Regions from separate parts of the Homo sapiens genome. Here region 2 is linked to region 1. A link means that fine-mapping ties the variant in region 1 to the plasma level of a protein whose gene starts in the linked region. Region 1 holds a variant in brackets. A gene starts in the other region. All regions are shown on one strand. Distances are from middle to middle. Region 1 holds the start of LOC124903823 (a long non-coding RNA gene). Region 2 holds the start of TINAGL1 (tubulointerstitial nephritis antigen like 1).

The links. PIP is the chance, under the fine-mapping model, that this variant and not a neighbour inherited with it causes the effect. Protein levels are from antibody-based Olink assays in UK Biobank. Linkage for the fine-mapping came from a reference panel and not from the study's own genotypes, which makes the PIPs less certain.
Region 2: it holds the start of TINAGL1, and the variant in region 1 is fine-mapped to the plasma level of the TINAGL1 protein (UK Biobank, PIP 0.99).

Annotation. Positions count from the first base shown.
Region 1 is chr1:2,210,341-2,219,740 of GRCh38, forward strand. LOC124903823 (a long non-coding RNA gene) reads left to right here and starts at 2,051. Exons shown (of 2, transcript XR_007065358.1): 1 at 2,051-2,137. It also overlaps a transcript of FAAP20 not described here. RefSeq lists enhancers at 1-78, 1,401-2,239. The variant C/A (reference allele first, on the strand shown) is at 4,386.
Region 2 is chr1:31,570,100-31,579,499 of GRCh38, forward strand. It overlaps TINAGL1 (tubulointerstitial nephritis antigen like 1), which reads left to right and starts at 6,416. Exons shown (of 12, transcript NM_022164.3): 1 at 6,416-6,496; 2 at 7,035-7,359; 3 at 9,105-9,168. The coding sequence starts at 7,050. LOC105378626 (a long non-coding RNA gene) reads right to left here and starts at 7,798. Exons shown (of 6, transcript NR_188671.1): 1 at 7,745-7,798; 2 at 5,311-5,571; 3 at 1,936-2,204; 4 at 182-1,643. RefSeq lists an enhancer at 6,227-6,947.

The sequences.
Region 1 (9,400 bases):
TGCTGGCGGGACAGGGGGTGGCTGTGACCTTCACCCAGCCTGTGCTGAGAGCTCCAGCCCCCCACGGCGCCCACAGCCCTGCCTGCCGCCTCCCCCACCCCAGACCCTGCCCTCCTACCCTCCACGCCTGCTTTGGGGAGGAGGCCAGGTGGGGGTGGGGCTGATCTAGTCACAGGCTCTGCTTCGGCAATGAGACCCCAGCAACCCCCCAGGTAAGGGGGCCTTGGGGGCTGGGTGGGGGTGGCTCCTCGGGGCTCCTCCTGCCCTCCGGGGGCTGTGAAGCTTTCTGGGCAGCACTAGTCCCTTTTGCAAGACACTGCCAAGACTTGTGGCATTTCTGTGGGTCTCTGCATGCACAGCAGAGCACACACATGCACCAGGGCTGGGGCTCTTCTCCTGGAGGGTGACCCTGGGAATGGGTAGCCTTGCCCACCCAACCTTGGTCACCAGTGGCCATCCAGCCCCAGGTGTCCCCATCCTCAATTTGGGCTGAGGGCAGACTGCAGGCTGGCGTTGCAGAGGCAGCTGGGTAAAGTGTGGTCCCAGACAGGGACGCAAGCTGGCGATTGCTGCGGGGGACCTGGGCCTGGGCTTAGCGACTGCTGCCCCTATCCAGATGCCTGATTGGGACCAGGGTGTGGGGCCGGGCCCTGCAGCGCCTGTCTTGCCCGGGCTGGAGCCCTAGAGCTGTGCGACCTGGGGCCAGGGTGTTCTGACAGACTCACTCTCAGGGGCTGGATGCCCTTGGGCACCACGGCGGGTGCCTAGCAGACCGTGCTGTACACCATACCCCTACTCTGGCCATCTGTGGGCTCCTTGGGCCCCTGCCGCCATGCCACTGCCTCTCTTGGGAGCAAGTTTCTTTTCTTTTCTTTTTCTTTCTTTCTTTTTTTTTTTTTTTTTTTTGAGACGGAGTTTCGCTCTTGTTGCCCTGGTTGGAGTGCAGTCGCGCGATCTCGGCTCACTGCAACCTCCGCCGCTCAGGTTCAAGTGATTCTCCTGCCTCAGCCTCCCAAGTAGCTGGGATTACAGGTACCTGCCACCACGCCTGGCTAATTTTATATATATATATATATATATATATATATATATATATTTTTTTTTTTTTTTTTTTTTTTTTTTTTGAGACAGAGTCTTGCTCTGTTGCCTAGGCTGAAGTGCAGTGGCGCAATCTGGGCTCACTACAAGTTCCGCCTCCCAGGTTCACGCCATTCTCCTGCCTCAGCCTCCCCAGTAGCTTGGGACTACAGGCACCCGCCACCACGCCCGGCTAATTTTTGTTATATTTTTAGTAGTGACGGGGTTTCACTGTGTTAGCCAGGATGGTCTCCATCTCCTGGCCTTGTGATCCGCCTGCCTCGGCCTCCCAAAGTGCTGGGATTACAGGCATGAGCCACCGTGCCCGGCCAGTTTTTTATATTTTTATTAGAGACGGGGTTTCATCATGTTGGCCAGGCTGGTCTCAAACTCCTGACCTCAGGTGATCCACCTGCCTCGGCCTCCCAAAGTGCAGGGATTACAGGCGTGAGCCACCGTGCCTGGCCGAGAGCAAGCTGCTGCTTTTTTTTTTTTTTTTTTTTGAGACGGAGTCTTGCTTTGTCGCCCAGGCTGGAGTGCAGTAGTGTGATCTCGGCTCACTGCAAGCTCCACCTCCCAGGTTCACACCATTCTCCTGCCTCAGCCTCCCGAGTAGCTGGGACTACAGGCGCCCGCCACCACGCCCAGCTAATTTGTTTTTTTGTATTTTTAGGAGCGACAGGGTTTCACCGTGTTAGCCAGGTTGGTCTCGATCTCCTGACCTCGTGATCCGCCCGCCTCAGCCTCCCAAAGTGCTGGGATTACAGGCGTGAGCCACTGCGCCAAGAGCAAGCTTCTGATGTAGGGGCTGCGGGGGGCTTCCCAGGCCAGGCAGGTTGCTGTCTCAGCGCCAGCGTGTAGCCTCCTCCCAGGATCCGGAGCAGGAGGGTGGCTGTCTTTTGCGTTCAATCCGCTGGGCTGCTGTGGGGTTCCCGCAGAGCTGCTCCAAGGGGCCGAGAGAAGGAAGGACGCTGCCCCCAAGGACAGACGGGCAAGCTGGAGTCAGGAGAGGCGCAGCCGTGGCCCACAGGCCTTGGATCTCTGGTTGGGGGAGCACCAGGTGGGTATGGGAGGGGGCCAGGGAAGCCCTGCAGCCCCCCCACCCCCACCCCCGGCCCCAGGCAGCAGTACCTCCAAGGCCTGGGCGGCAGGAAAGGGAGAGATGACGTCATTGCCGCCTGGAATCTGCTGTTTGGAGGCGTCGCCATGGAGACCGGAAGGCTCAGGGTGGGTAAAAATAGCAAACCCAAAAGGGTGTAAGTTCCAAGAACGCGAGTCTCTGAAAAGCGAGGCATCCATGTTCTCGTTGCCTGGAGGACAGAGGGCCCAGGCTGGGAGTCTAGCGGGAGGGGCCGCTCGGGGCTGCTGGCTTGCAGCCACCCACACGCGGTGTGTCCCTGCCACAGCCACGGAGAGCTTTGTCCCCGCGCAGGGTGTGGCGGGCGTGGCAGGCTCCCAGCAGGAGGCGTCTGCAAGCACGCTCCCTTCCTTTGCTTGGGCACCGGAGCCTTAGCCGAGGCCGCGCTGCAGGGACTTTTCCTTCCTCGGAGAGGGGAAGCGGCCGTGGCCTGTGAGTCGCTGGGCTTCCCAGGCCTCATCCAGGCCGGAACTCCGTGCCTCCAGGCGGCCTCTGCTGGGGCGGGAGGTACCAGAGCTGGGGTTTTCGCTGCCTGGCCTGAATGCTCTTTTCCTGCCCCAGTTTTGGAGAAGGAAAGGGGCGGTTGCCTGAGAAAGCGTCCTGCACCCCAGTCCTATTCCTCTAGGGGTGGTTTTCTTGCCAGGAAGCAGGATTTTCCTCCAGGCCAGGAGGTGGCCGTCCTGCTCCTTCTGGGCTTGGTCCCCGGAAACGCCAGTACACACTGTCTGCACCTCCCTTTGGCTGCGTCCCAGTGTCCTCAATGGGTCCCCCCAAGTCCCAGGCCACAGAATACAGCAGGAGGCTCGAGGGCTCTGGGCTGCTCTCCCCAGATGGCCGAGTCCGTGGAGAAACCCTGTAGCCGCGAGGGGCTCCCTGGCCGGGTGCCACCTCTGAGAAACTCTGCCCTGTTTTGGCTCTCGGTGTCGCTGGGGGCTCCTCTCTCCCAGGCCAGGCTGCACCGGGGCACGGAGGGGACCTCGCCTGGCTGCTTCCTCCCGCAGCGCGAGCCTAGGCAGAAGTGTCATTGGGCTCAGGAACCCTCAGATGGCCCAAGAATGACCCAGGAACCCTGAGAAGGCCCAAGAGTGACCCAGGAGCCCTCAGATGGCCCAAGAGCACCCCGAGTGGGGAGGGATCCAGGGTGATTCCCAGCCCCGAGAAAGGAAGCCCCATTCCGGGAGGGTGACTGTCCCCGAGCGGGGGGATGACTGTCCCCGAGCAGGGGGGTGACTGTGCCCGAGCGGGGGGGTGACTGTCCCCGAGCGGGGGGGTGACTGTCCCCGAGCAGGGGGGTGACTGTCCCCGGTTGGAAGGTGACTGCCCACTACAGCAACAAACGTTCTCCTGAGCAGCCTGGGGAACGCTTTCCTCCCTCCGTGCCGGAGGCTGGTGGGGCTGAGTCTCCGCCGCTCCCTGGGTGCTAAATCCTGGAACATCTTCAAAGAGTTTCAGTCCCTTCTCTTCTGCACACACCATTGTTCTCAGGGTGGCAGGGCACCCCCTTCCTCCACCCAGGGCAGGGGGAGCACGGGGTCTCACCTCTCACGCCCAGACCTCCCTTGGCTTGTGGTGGCCTTGACTGGAGAGGGCGAGGGGACATAGAGCCCTGTGTAGGGGTTTCTCATTCCCCCAAGACATAGCTCGCATGCCTTATGTAACGCGTGAGCTCACGCAGAGGGCCTGCCAGAAATGACGGCAGGGGCGGGAGGGGCCTGCTCGGGAAGCCAAGTGTGGCTCAGGCTTACGAGGAGCCTGGGCCCTGCCTTGAGGAGAGAGGGGCCCCGGGCCTTTGCAACCTGGGGCTCCCACACTGGCAGGGGATGGGCAGGGCCTGGGAGGGAGCGAAGGCCGTGGTGGTGCAGTGTATGGCAAGGCCTGGGGTGGCTGTGCTGGTCACTTGGCCTGTGGGTGCCTGGCCAAGCAGGATGTGGGGTCAGGCCCACCCCACTCCCCCACTAGCAGGCACCAGCAGGCCCGAGATGTCAGAGGAAGGGGCCTAAGTCACCCAAGACCCCCGGGAGAAGCTCTGGGGGCCTTAGAGGGGTGGATGGGTGGAGGCAGTGCCATCTCCCCCAGTGCCAGCTGCCCTTCCACCCTGAGAAACAGACCAGGACGGATGCTGCGCTGAGGATGGCCCTGAGGCAGGGCTGGACCCAGTGCCCGCGGCCGC[C/A]CTTGCCCTTCCTCCCTTCCCTTTCGGAGTCCTGGCCCCACCCTGTGCTTCCCCTCCGCCTGCTGCACAGGCGCCCACACTGTGTGGCTGGCCCAGCCCAGTTTCATTCCTGGAATGGGACCCCGGGAGCCGAGAGGGGCAAGGGCCTCTGGGCGGCGCGTGGGGCCTGGGTGACAGCACGGGTCCTCAGGGCAGTGCCCCCAGCCAAGAGGGAGCCATCCCTCCAAACACAGTGCCAAGGGGCACCTGGCCTGGGGACCTGTGTCCCGCCAGCAGTAGGGCCTAGCACAGCTGCACCTCACCAGGCCCAGGCCAGCCATTGGTCAGCTCACGGCCTGTTGCTGGGAAGGCAGCCAGCCCCTGACAAGGAGGGGGTGACCGGGAGTCCCACTAGGAGGAGGGGGAGGCCAGCCCTCGGGCCTGAGGAGGGCAGAACACTGGCAGGGGTCCCTGGCAGCGTCTTGGACTTTGCCCTCAAACCCTTAAGCAGGAGAACGGGGTGGGTGGGGGTTCCCTGAGGGGGCCAAGGGTGGTGCCGGGAGCCCAGTGTGGGGCAGATCCTGCTCTCAGGAAGGGTGGCTGAGGGGCCATGGCCCTAGACAGCGGGAGGGGCTGTATCCTGCTGCTGATGGGGAGGGGTGAGGATGGGGGCAAGGGGCGTCCATGCAGAGGCGGAGAGCAGGAGGTGAGGGGTTGGGCCCCTGGGATGGCTTGGTCTGAGCCTGGAGGCTGCACCCCCTCTGAGTAGCGGGAAGGTGGCTGCGGGCAGGTGCCGTGGGTGACTGAAGGGTAGGACCTGCGTGAAGGAGCCCCCGCTGCCCTTGGGACCACTGGGCCCCCGAGGTCTGGCCCTCACACACACCCTGCCCTCACCTGACCTCCCGCCCCGACCAGCCGCTTGCCCCAGTAGGTCCCAGGCTGCCCTGAGCCTCAGCATGCTCTGGTCTGCACGTGGCGGTAATGCCACCTGGCTCAGCATGTTGAGGGAAACCAGTCCTGGCACCAGGGTCCCACAGTGCCTGTGATGACTTATGAGGTTCTGCCATTGCAACCAACAGTGCCACAGCTTGGGCCCCTGGAAAGCACTGCGGGGATGGTCCCCCACTTCGAGAAGTGCTGGCTGAAAGCTTTGTGTGGGCAAGGACAGCACCCTTCTGCCCCCATTGGGTCCCCTGTGCCCACCTCGTGGTGCTCAGTGTTGTGTGCCGGGTAAAGGACAGCAGCCAGGGCCTCGGAGGATGCTGGTGATGCCCAGGCCGCGGCTGGGTCCCTGGCTCTCGCTCTGTCCCCACTGTTTGACACACAACCGCTTCAGCTAAGTCAAGAGTGATCTCTGGCCTGGGGGTCCCGGGCTCAGTGAAGTGCCGAGGGCACGCAGGGAGGTGGCGGCGAATGACTGGGGTGGCGTGGCGTGGCGTGGTGTGGCTGCAGCCCCGGGCAGCTATGACCAGCACAGCGCACAATCCAGGGCTGCACAGGATGCCCCCAGGACAGGGTTCAGTGGGTGAGGGTGGCAGGGCTGGGTGCCCACACTGGCTCTTCAATTCAGCACACGGCCCCCCAGGCTGGGCCTCACCAGTGTCCCCCTGGCTGTCCACAGGCTGTGGATGCGTCCTCAGAGCCAGGCCACGGGCTGCTGAGGGTGTCGAGGCCTCTGTGCCCCTCCCTCCCTCGGGCCCAACATCCTGCTGCTGCGCCCTCAGCCTCCAAGGTCCTTGTGTCTCTGGGCATGGGCTGCCAGGGGTCTCCTGCAGGAAAGGGAGCCCGAGAGAGCCAGCTTTGTCTCCCTAGCCTGGGACCTGGGCCAGGCCCTGTCACACTCTGGGTGTGAGCCCAAGGTGGGGTTGGGTGGACACCTGGCTCCCGGGATGGTTCAATGCCTGGCCCAGGCTGTCCAAGGCTGGGCAGCCTCATTGCTGCCCTACCTGGCTTTGTCCCTGTGGGGAGTGGGCAGGAGCTGGGCTGTGGCTCTGAGTGGGGTGGTCTGCTGGCCACCTGCTCTCACCCTCTGGTTCCCAATGGCCACAATGGCAGGACCATCCATGGCCCCCCAGAGGCAGGTGCCCTGCTCAGCACTTCCCATGCATCACCTCAGGTGATCTCAAGAGGCAGGCCCTGGCTCTGGGACCACCACCGGGAGGCTGACACACACCCGAGGCCACCTGGGCACGGTACAGGTCAGGCAACTGATTTCACAGAAGATCCCATGGTGGGCGAGGGCTCTCCTGGGCAGAATGGCTCTGAGAGAAACAACAGGAAACGCAAGCAAAACTGAAGGCAGCTTCCTTAGAAAGCCAGAAAATGGGCCGGGTGCAGTGACTAACGCCTGTAATCTCAGCACTTTGGGAGGCCAAGGCATGCGGATCACGAGATCAGGAGATCGAGACCATCCTGGCTAACACAGTGAAACCCCATCTCTACTAAACATACAAAAAATTAGCCAGGTGTGGTGGTGGGCACCTGTAGTCCCAGCTACTCAGGAGGCTGAGGCAGGAGAATAGCTTGAACCCGGGGGGCCGAGGTTGCAGTGAGCCAAGATTGCAGCACTGCACTCCAGCCTGGGCAACAGAGCAAGACTCTGTCTCAAAAAAAAAAAAAAAAAAAAAAGAAAGCCAGAAACTGCCGACCAGGCATGGTGGCTCATGCCTGTGATCCCAGCACTTTGAGAGGCCGAGGCGGGCAGATCACCTGAGGACAGGAGTTCAAGACCAGCCTGGCCAACATGGTGAAACCCCGTCTCTGCTAAAAATACAATAATTAGTTGGGCATGGTGGCATGTGCCTGTAATCCCAGCTATTACGGAGGCTTAGGCACGAGAATTGCTTGAACCCTGGAGGCGGAGGTTGCAGTGAGCCAAAATCGCACCACTGCACTCCAGCCTAGGCGATGGAGAGAGATTCCGTCTCAAAAAAAAAAAAAAAGAGCTGGGTGCGGTGGCTCACGCCTGTAATCCCAGCACTTTGGAAGGCCGAGCTGGGCAGATCATGAGGTCAGGAGATCAAGACCATCCTGGCTAACATGGTGAAACCCCATCTCTACTAAAAATATACAAAATTAGCCGGGCATGGTGGCGGGCGCCTGTAGTCCCAGCTACTCAGAAGGCTGAGGCAGGAGAATTGTGTGAACCCGGGAGGCGGAGATTGTAGTGAGCCGAGGTAGTGACACTGCACTGCAGCCTGGGCGATAGAGAGAGATTCCGTCTTTAAAAAAAAAAACAAAAAAAAAACAAAGAAAACTAGAAATTGCAGGTCAGCGCAAAAGAGAAACTTTAAGACATCTGTAGATTCTTCACTTGGCAAAAGTCACTTTCTTGTTTTTTGATATATGATCTGAAGGCTATAACATTCTACGTACCATGTAAGCTACATCCAGGAATTTTCATTGACAGTGTTTTCATTATCATTCAATTTAAAACATTTTGTGGTTTCCATTTTGATCCCTTCTTTAATTGATGATGTGTCCAAAGTATTTTGCAATGTCCCAGATAATGGTGATTTTTGATGGGAATGTGTATTTTTCTTTGTTATTTATTTTTATTTATTTTTTTGAGATGGAGTCTCGCTGTCACCCAGGCTGAAGTGCAGTGGCGCGATCTCAGCTCACTGCAACCTCTGCTTCCTGGGTACAAGTGATTCTCCTGCCTCAGCCTCCTGAGTAGCTGGGACTGTAGGCACATGCCACCATACCTGGCTAATTTTTGTATTTTTAGTAGAGACAGGGTTTCACCAGGCTGGTCTCAAACTCCTGCCCTCAGGTGATCCGCCCACCTCAGCCTACCAAAGTGCTGGGATTACAGGTGTGAGCCACTGCCCTCAGCCTGTTATTTTTAGTTTGGAATTCTAGTGTGTTTCTTTATTTTAATAGTTACCAAAGAAATACAGATACATAGATAAAAGAAACAAAAAGAACCCCCAAAGTTAGTACAGTTTAAATACTGAAACTGTAGAATCTGTAGAAACTATTGTCTCTGTGGAACTCACCAAGCCCTGGCCCTCCTTTGCTCCTCCATTACGGCCCTAGCGTCAGCTTCTTTCAAAGCTTTCACCCATTTTTTTTTGTCTTAGCTCTCTCCATACTTCTCAATTATGTGCTCTTGCTGCTCCTCCTTGGTTTAGCAGCTTTATACATGGTGAGATGTTACTGGAGAATGAGGGTTTTGCTCTTATCCAATGCTCCCTGCCCCACCCTACCATCTCTTCTTCTGTCTTCCCAAATGAGCAATTTCCTCATTTTTGTTTAAGTTGATGTCTCTATTATAATTTGTACTATAACTCTCTGCTGAGTCAAGTAGTGAACTCTGCTTAGGTTTTCTCTTTATTTTTCCTGGAGTTAGTAGTGGCCTTGCTTTCTTCTGTCATCTGCTGAGTTTCCTCTGTGCCTATGGCCCATCCCACCTACCTCTTCCAACAAGCCCTCCACACAGTGTTTGATCTAGTCAGTTGCATCCTACCTTCCACTGGTTCCTTGTTTTCCTGGAGCCCTGTGTCCTTCTGGCTTAGTCTGGGCTGCTTACTCTCTGGGCTCCATGTCTAGGCTGGTGGGCAGAGATTTCCATTTCCCCTTCATGGACTGGGACAGACCCTTCTTAGCTCTTATTGTTATGATGGAAGCCCAGTTCCAGATCCCATTCAGAAAGGGCCTGTGGCCATGACTCTTGTCTCTCACTGGCCTTAACCAGCAGCCCTCAGTGGACGTGAGACCAGGCCCAAGGCTTGCATTGGCAGTTTGGTTTCCACTCTTGCTTACCACTGTGGCTTGAGTGCTATCTTCATTTCTAGCTCTGCACAGCTACCTTCCTTGTGCCTTTTTACAGGACATTTAAAAAACAAATCTGGCCAGGCGAGGTGGCTCACACCTGTAATCCCAGCACTTTGGGAGGCTGAGGCGGGCAGATCATGAGGTCAGGAAATCAAGACCATCCTGGCTAACATGGTGAAACCCTGTCTCTACTAAAAAATACAAAAAAAATTAGCTGGGCATGGTGGCGGGTGCCTGTAGTCCCAGCTACTCAGGAG
Region 2 (9,400 bases), 29 Mb after region 1:
GTTAGCTTAATAATGGCAGACACTTATTTTGTATTTGTGGTATGTCAGTATTGTCAATTCCAAGTGCCTTACATATATGAATTCATATCATCTTCACAACCACCTTGCAGGTAGGGACTGTTATTAGTGCCCTCATTTTACACATGGAGAAACTGAGACACGGAGCATTTAAGAAGCTTACCCCTGTTTCCCCGGTTGTTGAGTGGTGGAGCCAGGCCTGGAACCTGCTTTACCTGGCTACTGAGTGATAAACCTCCTTGAACCTGGCTCTTAACCACAATCAATACCACTCACTGTGGTGCGTGAACCACTTCAAGATGACTTGACGTTGCGTGAGCCGGTTTGGTCTGCTTTTGCCAGCATGAGCTGCTTGTGCTGGCGTTACCCGCACACAACCTTGATTTTGGTGATTCCAATCGACAGATGGAGCTCAGGCCTCGTGGATCCTCCTTGAACTGGAAGCCCACTGTATTTCTTTCCCAGGGCTGCTATGATGAACTGCTACAAACGTGGCTGCTTAACACAACAGAAGTTAATTTTCTCAGTTCTGGGGGCCAGAAGTCCAAAATCAAGGTGTCGGCCAGGCTATTCTCCCTCTGTATCCAGAGGATCAGGGAGAATCTGTTCCTTGCCTCCTCCAGCTTCTGGTGGCTCCAGGTGTTCCTCGAATTGTGGCCACAGAGCTCTGATCTCAGCCTCTGGGGCCACATTGCCTCTTCCTTTCCTGTCTGTGCCCTCTGGGGTCTCTCATAAGGACATTGTCAACAGATTTAGGGTCCACCCAGATAACCCAGGATGATCTCCTTATCTCAAAATCCTTAACTTAATTACATCCAAAAGGACTCTTTTTCCAAATAAGGTCACATTCACAAGTTCTGGGGATTAGAACATGGATATATCTTTTTTGAGACCTCCATTCAACTCATTACAACCAAAAGGCCACACCACAGTATTTGACCCTGAGAACCCAGCTCTTAAAACTGATTCTTCCTGTTGGATGAGTATTCGCCCAGCTATTGGGGTTTCATCACTGTCTGCTTGGGGATCAGAAAAGGAAGAGTGTCAAATGTGCTTGGAGCCATGGAAGAGCCTCTTGCACTTTTCAAGACCTATATATTAATATTCCTGGCTGGAAGGATCAAGATTTGCTGGAAATGTCAAGTGAGATGTAAAAATGTTTCTGTAAACAGGCACTCAAGGATAGCATTAGTTTTCTAAGATGTTTGTGGGTGATAACACCAAGCTCTTCTCCTGGGAGAGCATTCTTTAACGAATGTGCAGCTGAAGTGAAGGAGGGCAGGTAATTAAGAGATGAGGGGAAGCTGTTAACCCCCAAATATCACAAGGAAACAGCACTCAGGGGCCCTTTGTGCTCAACTGGCTCCAAACACCAACGATACAGAAATATGACAGAAAAGGGGAAGCTGTGTTTCTGTTTTCTGCATTTCTCCACTTCCATCCACAGTGAATGACCACAGACACTACCAGGTGTGAGAGTCAGCTTAGTCTTTGGACAGTTGTGGCCATTGCAGAGGCAGTGTGCTGGGGACCTCAGGGCTTGGGCACCAGGACGCTGCTCTGCTCCTAACAGCCGTGTGACCTTGGACAAGCCAGAGAGTCCTTCTGCATCTTGACTTGCTCATCTGTGAAATGGAGATAATAGGGCTACCTGTGAGTGTATTTGGTAGCATGCTATCTACCATACACGGCACGTACCCAGCCTCCATCTGACCTCTCTAAATCCACTTTTACCCTGCAATCATCTGTTCTCTCTAGAGCAGCCAGAGTGGGCCTTTGCACATGGAAATCAGATGATTTTGCCCTCATGTTTATATCCCCTCAGTGGTCAGAAGACAATTCAAGCCCCTTCCTCCAGCCTGTCCTGCATGATCCGGCCCCAGCCTTCTCCCAGCCCCTTCCTGCTCCTCTGTGCACCTCGCTTGCTGCACTCCGGATGCTCAGGGCTCTCTCCTGCTTCTCAAGCAGACCAACTTGTGCCAGGCCTCAGGGCTTTTGCTCATGCTGATCCGGCTTCCTGGGATGCCTCCCCTGGGCCCTGGGAATGGCTGCTTTCTTCTCATCCCTCAGGTGTCAGCTCAAACGTCATCTCCTCTCTGAGACCGCCTTGACCAGCACATTACACCAGGTTCTTACGCTATGTGCATATCTTCAGAACGCTTCACATTTTGGAATGACTTCTTGATCTGTGGGTGGGGGGGCGGGGGGATGGTTTGCTTATGTATTTGTCTATCTTCCCGTTGTTATTATTATTATTATTATCATCATCATTATTTGAGATGGAATCTCACTTTGTCACCCAGGCTGGAGTGCAGTGGCACAATCTCAGCTCACTGCCACCTCTGCCTCCTGGGCTCAAGCAATCCTCCCACCTCAGCCTCCTGAGTAGCTGGGGCCATAGGTACATGCCACCATACCCAGGCAATTTTTTTAATTTTTGGTAGAGACAGGGTTACACCATGTTGCCCAGGCTGATCTCAAACCCCTGAGCTGAAGCAATCCACCTGCCTTAGGCTCCCAAACTGCTGGGATTACAGGCATGAGCCGCCATGCCTGGCCTCTCTTCCCATTAGACTGCAAACTCCACAATAGCAGGAACTCCATCTGTTTGGTTCAACAATGTACACTCAGCACCTAGCACAGAACCTGGCACATCGTAAATGCTTAACAAGTATTTGTTGAATGAATGAGAAAATCAAATAGTAAAGCATGCCATTGCGTGGCGCAACACACTTCCACATGGCCTGGAATTTTGTCTGCTGCAAGCTCCAGCGTGCTATGACAGCACCACACTCTGACTGTCATGCAGCCCTTGATGTGGGACTTTCTACAAAACAGTCCATGAGCCCTGGGAAGCCCCAACATATCACAACATGGCCCAACCGGCTACAGTATTAGGCCTGGACAGGGTCTCAGATGCAGTCCCAGGGAGCACTGACCTGAGCTCTGGACATGTCCCACTGACCACAGGGAACCACAAGGAGCCCCAGCCTTGGATGGGGTGCTGTTTGGGCCCTGAGCATCTGAACTCCCAGGCCTCAAGTATCAGGTCCTCGGCTAGGGACCTGAGGTGAGCAGACAACAGGTCTTTGTCTTCCCAGAAAGCCCTGCTCAGCTCACAGAGGAGAATGGCTGATTCCGAGCATTTAGAGCAGTTGTGAAGTTTGTGGGGTGTGGGGAGCTCTGGGACTCCATAGAGAGGAGAGCCCTCTGCTCTGCCGTGTGTTCTTAGGCTTGTCACTGTCCCTTTCTGGCTTCACCTCCCTCTGTAAAAGTAAGAGAATACCAGAGGGCCTCCAGGGAGCATCTGGGTACAGGTTGGTACCAACGCCCAGAGAGGGGCTGCGCTGCCGGGGGTCCGGAGTAAGGGAGGACAAAACCACCACAGGGACCTAGGCTACCTGCCTCTTGAAAAGCCGGAAGGGCTCAGAGGGGGAAGTCTCGCTGGTGTCTCCTCCTCTGCTGCTCTGTCCCAGGCCCTTGGATAAGGCCCCACTTTGCTCAAGAATAAGTCATTGAGTCGGCCAGGCATGGTGGCTCATGCCTGTAATCCCAGCACTTTGGGAGGCTGAGGCGGGCGGATCACAAGGTCAGGAGATCGAGACCATCCTGGCTAACATGGTGAAACCTCATCTCTACTAAAAAAAAAATACAAAAAATTAGCTGGGCCTGGTTGTGGGTGCCTGTAGTCCCAGCTACTCAGGAGGCTGAGGCAGGAGAATGGCTTGAACCCAGGAGGCAGAGCTTGCAGTGAGCTGAGATCACGCCACTGCACTCCAGCCTGGGCGACAGAGCGAGACTCCATCAAAAAAAATAATAATAAGTCAATGAGTCACTAGGAGTCACTAGGAGGCAAAGGGTCAAAGGGTCATGGAAAAGGAAAGTGGGGGTGTCCAGCACCCCCGGCCCTGCCCTTTTCCTCCTCGGCCAAGGAACCCAGTGAGTCACAAAATTCCACTGGGGCGGGCTCTGTGCCAAGCTGAGTGATGGTGGGAGGCTCTGGCTCTGCTCCCATCCCCTGCTCTGAGTCCCTGCCTCTTATGCACAGACAGGCAGGCAGACAAGGACAGGCAGATGGCCACAACTCCCACACAGATACACAGACACCTCTTAGACAGGGAGGCACAGGCAGGACACACACACAGACATACAAGCCAACAAGTGCACAAATGCAGGCAAACAACACACGCTGGCAGACAGACAGATCCATAATGGACACAGAGACAACATCCAGACAGATACACACACACAGATGCACAGGTATGTAGCAGATGGACAGGTAAATGGATAGACAAGCAGACAATCAGTCAGACAAGGACAGGCAGATAGCCAAAATATCCAGACTCACAGATACACAGGCACATAGCAGATAGACAGGTAAACACACTTCGGAAGGCCAAGGCAGGCGGATTGCTTGAGCTCAGGAGTTGGAGACCAGCCTGGGCAACATGGTGAAACCCCATCTCTACTACAAATACAAAAAAAATTCAGGCAGGCATGGCGGTGTGCACCTGTAGTCCCAGTTACTCAGGAAGCTGAGGTGGGAGGATTACTTGAGCCCAGGAGGTCAAGGCTTCAGTGAGTCGAGATCGCGCCACTGTACTCCAGCCTGGGTGACAAAGTGAGACCTTGTCTCAAAAAAAAACAAAAAACAAAAAGCAAAAAAAACCCAGACGATCAGATGTGGACTGACAGACTCAAGCAGAAGCAGAAACACCCCCACAAACACCGCAACTCAGATATACACATGCATACATGCACACAGAGATAACACACCCAGACTCACGAGGGTAGCCTATGCGGTGTGATTTTGGGCAAAAGAGAGGCCAGATGTCTCTAAACAAGCCCCCAGCCCCAGAACCATGAAAAAGTAGGTACCATAAAAGTAGGAACTCTGGACACGAACTCTTTTGAAAGAAAGCAGCTTTCATCTCTTACCCTGAGGATATGACATTTACCAATACCGAGGGGCCCGTCCTGCAGTAAGATGAATGGAGTTTAGATAAGAAAAGAGACTTCCCAACCAGGAGCACGTTGAGACCTGTAGTGGGTGACTAAGGGTGACTAGGGGTAAAGGAGTGGGCTGGTGGCAGGCAGGGAGCCTGTGTTCTGGCTGCACGACCTCAGGCAAGTGCATTCTTCTGAGCCTCAGTTTCCCACCTAGGCTTTGTCCTCCCAGGTCCCTGCAGGGAGCAGATGGGCAGCTCCTGGGTGTGTTAGTGCCAGTGCTGGGGCCCCCGGATATTATCCCTCCACCCCCACCACCAGGGCAGGACCCCCTTGGTGACTCACCACCCAGTGGTCCATGGCAGGGGTAACCCAGCCACAGGTGCCGGTGATCCTCGGCTCTCTCCCTTCCCCCAGGGTCTGGCCAGCTGAGGATGCCCCTTGGTTTGGGGGAGGTTTGCAGGGAGGTCAGTGGGAGGGCAAAGGGAGTCCCTGATGCCTTCCCCGGGGCCACATGTGAGGCTCAGGCCTGGGCCTGGGAGGGTTTGTCCAGGTGTAGTCTCTTTTATCCTCTTTGCTGGTAGAGACCTCTGGCCTGGGCCCAACCTGTTGAAGAGAGGGCGTTGCACAATAGGGAGGTAAAAGGTGACGGCAGACCTGGCGGGACAGAAGCCCCATTGTTTGGGTCCCAGGCCAGCCTGGGCAAAGAAAGGTTTATGCCTGCGGCAGGAAGGAGGGCCTCTGCAGGGGGTGCCAGCTGGTAGGGCCCTTGCCTTTGGACCCTTGGAGGGGGACAGGTGCCAAGCAGGATGCCCTTGGGTTTGCTAGAGAGGGCAGTGCTCGTCTAGGGGCCCAAGCAGGCAAGGGAAGGCAGACTCAACAAGGGATCAAAGGGTGCAGAGGCCACCCCCACACCCTGCCCACCTCCCAGGGATGAGCCGCCCAGGGCACCTAAGGATCATACTCCTGGAATTCCAATCATTCCTAGGAGCTGGGGTGGCTAGGGGGGCGGCACCCAAGCCTAGGGGGCACAGTGGAGAGGGGTGTGCATGGCTATTTTTATTACCGAGGGGTCAGGAGAGGCTTACAGAATTTTGCCTCACATGCCCTCCCCATCATTTCCCAAACTTGTGTCCATAACCCAGAGCTCGGCTGCCCATATCCCCCCTTCTCCACCAGAGCCCCTCAGCTCCACAGGGATGCCCACTGTGAAGTCCTTCCCAGTGTGAAACCGCAATCCTTCCTGCTTGGGGTTCCCCTAAGGGAACGGCTTCCGCCACAGGAGACCCAGCCAGGACAATCGTGTGCTTGTCGTTTCTCCACCCTGCAAGCCCATGAGTTGTGGGGTAGTTACTCCAGGTACAAGCCAGGCGCCCCTCCCTTCCGCCACTGCTGGGGCGGTGCAGAGGGCGGGCGGTACAAAAAGCGCCCCGCCCCGCGCTCCTCTCTTGACTTTGAGCGTCCGGCGGTCGCAGAGCCAGGAGGCGGAGGCGCGCGGGCCAGCCTGGGCCCCAGCCCACACCTTCACCAGGTAGGGACGCTCCCCTGCTCAGAGGGCGGAAGGTGTAGACAGAGAAGAAACAGGGGGAGGGGGCAGGTAGAGGAACCAAGACAGATGGCAGAGAGAGGGACAGTGGAGGGGGACAGAGGGACACAGGAACAGAAGAGAGGTGTACCCAAAAGACCGGGGGAGACAGGAAAGCACAAAGTCAAGGACCCAGGTCAGGGATGGAGGCTGCTGGAGGGCAGAGAGACCTAGGACAGGAGAGAAGACCTTGGGTCCACAGGATGAGTGTTGGGTGGGAGCACCAAGAATGCCACCACCCTCATTTCCTTGTCCTTGAAGGTCCCTGCCTAGGTCAGGGAGGGGCTCCGTTTCTGCCCAGTCCCCATCCCCCTATAGCCAGGGCCCACACACTGGGGCTCCTCTGCCCGTGTCCTGCCTGGGGACTCAGGAATCGGGATCTCCCTCCCTGCTGGGCCCTCTTGAACTCACAGCTCCAGGAAACTGGGAGACTCATCCCTGGTGTTCCAGGGAGTCTCTGCTGCCCACCATCTCTGCCCCCCAGGGCCCAGGAGCCACCATGTGGCGATGTCCACTGGGGCTACTGCTGTTGCTGCCGCTGGCTGGCCACTTGGCTCTGGGTGCCCAGCAGGGTCGTGGGCGCCGGGAGCTAGCACCGGGTCTGCACCTGCGGGGCATCCGGGACGCGGGAGGCCGGTACTGCCAGGAGCAGGACCTGTGCTGCCGCGGCCGTGCCGACGACTGTGCCCTGCCCTACCTGGGCGCCATCTGTTACTGTGACCTCTTCTGCAACCGCACGGTCTCCGACTGCTGCCCTGACTTCTGGGACTTCTGCCTCGGCGTGCCACCCCCTTTTCCCCCGATCCAAGGTGGGCACTAAGATGGCCAGGAGGGTGGGTCACTTTGTCCACCTCAGACTCAGCAAGGCTCAAGAGCAAAGCTGATGGATGCACTGACATTTCCAGGGGAAGCTCTGTAGAATCTGGGACTCTTCCCTGCCCCTCTGGGAACTTTACTCTCCAGCAAGACTGAAGAAGCTCCTTGGTTAGAATTCTAATTTGGCCCAGGGAAAGGGCAACCTCCCACATTTTCTCCCAATCCTGTCTCTTTTCCAGACACGGAAGGTGCTGGCCGCACCTGCTGACTCACTCTTGGGCTGATAAGGCACATATGGGTTGGTGAGGGTCATCTTAGCCATTTTTCTGCCTTTGCTGAGGATTCTAGGATCCTGTGCCCCGAGATGGCTGCTCATACCTGGGAGATGGGTCAAATCTTTTCCTGCTTTCAGCCTCACCATCATCCTTTTCCATGCACTTGCCCCTGTCCAATAGGAGAATCACTTGCGTTCCTTCCCACAGTTCCATGGGGCTTGGGCCGGCAGACTGCATACCTGAGCTGTCATCTCAAGAGTGCTGTGTTATCTTAGGACGGTTGCTTACCTTCTCTGGGCCTTGGCTTCCCCATGCTCCTCCCACTCCCCATCTCCAAGCCCTAACTTATTTAAATGGAAAAGGATCCCAGGAATGTTGTGGCTGGCATCCAAGTAAAGTAAGAGGAATCCAGGTTGGAATCATTGAAGAACTTCCCAAACAGCAGTTGGTGTGTGACCCTGCAGGATTTGTCTTCAGTTATAGTTTAATTTCAGTGAGAGCTGGTGTGTGTGTGTGTGTGTGTGTGTGTGTGTGTGATGTCTTCAGTTATAGCTTAATTTCAGTGAGAGCTGGTGTGTGTGTGTGTGTGTGTGATATCTTCAGTTATAGTTTGGCTTCAATTTCAGTGAGAGCTGGTATGTGTGTGTGTGTGTGTGTGATGCCTTCAGTTATAGTTTAATTTTAGTGACAGCTGGTGTGTGTGTGTGTGTGTGTGTGTGATGTCTTCAGTTATAGTTTAATTTCAGTGAGAGCTGGTATGTGTGTGTGTGTGTGTGATGTCTTCAGTTATAGCTTAATTTCAGTGAGAGCTGGTGTGTGTGTGTGTGTGTGTTGTCTTCAGTATAGCTTAATTTCAGTGAGAGCTGGTGTGTGTGTGTGTGATGTCTTCAGTTATAGTTTAATTTCAGTGAGAGCTGGTGTGTGTGTGTGTGTGTGTGTGTGTGATGTCTTCAGTTATAGCTTAATCTCAGTGAGAGCTGGTGTGTGTGTGTGTGTGTGATGTCTTCAGTTATAGTTTAATTTCAGTGAGAGCTGGTGTGTGTGTGTGTGATGTCTTCAGTTATAGTTTAATTTCAGTGAGAGCTGGTGTGTGTGTGTGTGATGTCTTCAGTTATAGCTTAATCTCAGTGAGAGCTGGTGTGTGTGTGTGTGTGTGTGATATCTTCAGTTATAGTTTGGCTTCAATTTCAGTGAGAGCTGGTATGTGTGTGTGTGTGTGTGTGATGCCTTCAGTTATAGTTTAATTTTAGTGACAGCTGGTGTGTGTGTGTGTGTGTGTGTGTGATGTCTTCAGTTATAGTTTAATTTCAGTGAGAGCTGGTATGTGTGTGTGTGTGTGAGACAGAGAGAGAGAAAGAGAGAGAATCTTGGAAAGGTTCAAGGTACCTGACCTCCAAGGACCTGGCCAATTAGCCCATCCTCTCTGGTTCTGGTTCCACTTCTCTTCTCTTCCCTTCCAACAGGATGTATGCATGGAGGTCGTATCTATCCAGTCTTGGGAACGTACTGGGACAACTGTAACCGTTGGTGAGTGTTTGGAGCTTAGAGGGGTCTTGCTTTGTGAGCCTGTGGCTGACAGACTTGGTTCAAATCTTATCCCTGACCCCTTTTGCAAGGGAGAAGTCTTTTCCCTTCTTTGAACCTCAGTTTCCTCATCTGCAATAGAGGAATTTTAACACTGACCAAGTCAACTTATCTAACATCATTCCAACAACATTCCTCAAGCATGGCCAGCCATGGGTGCCTGGCCCAGGGGTCA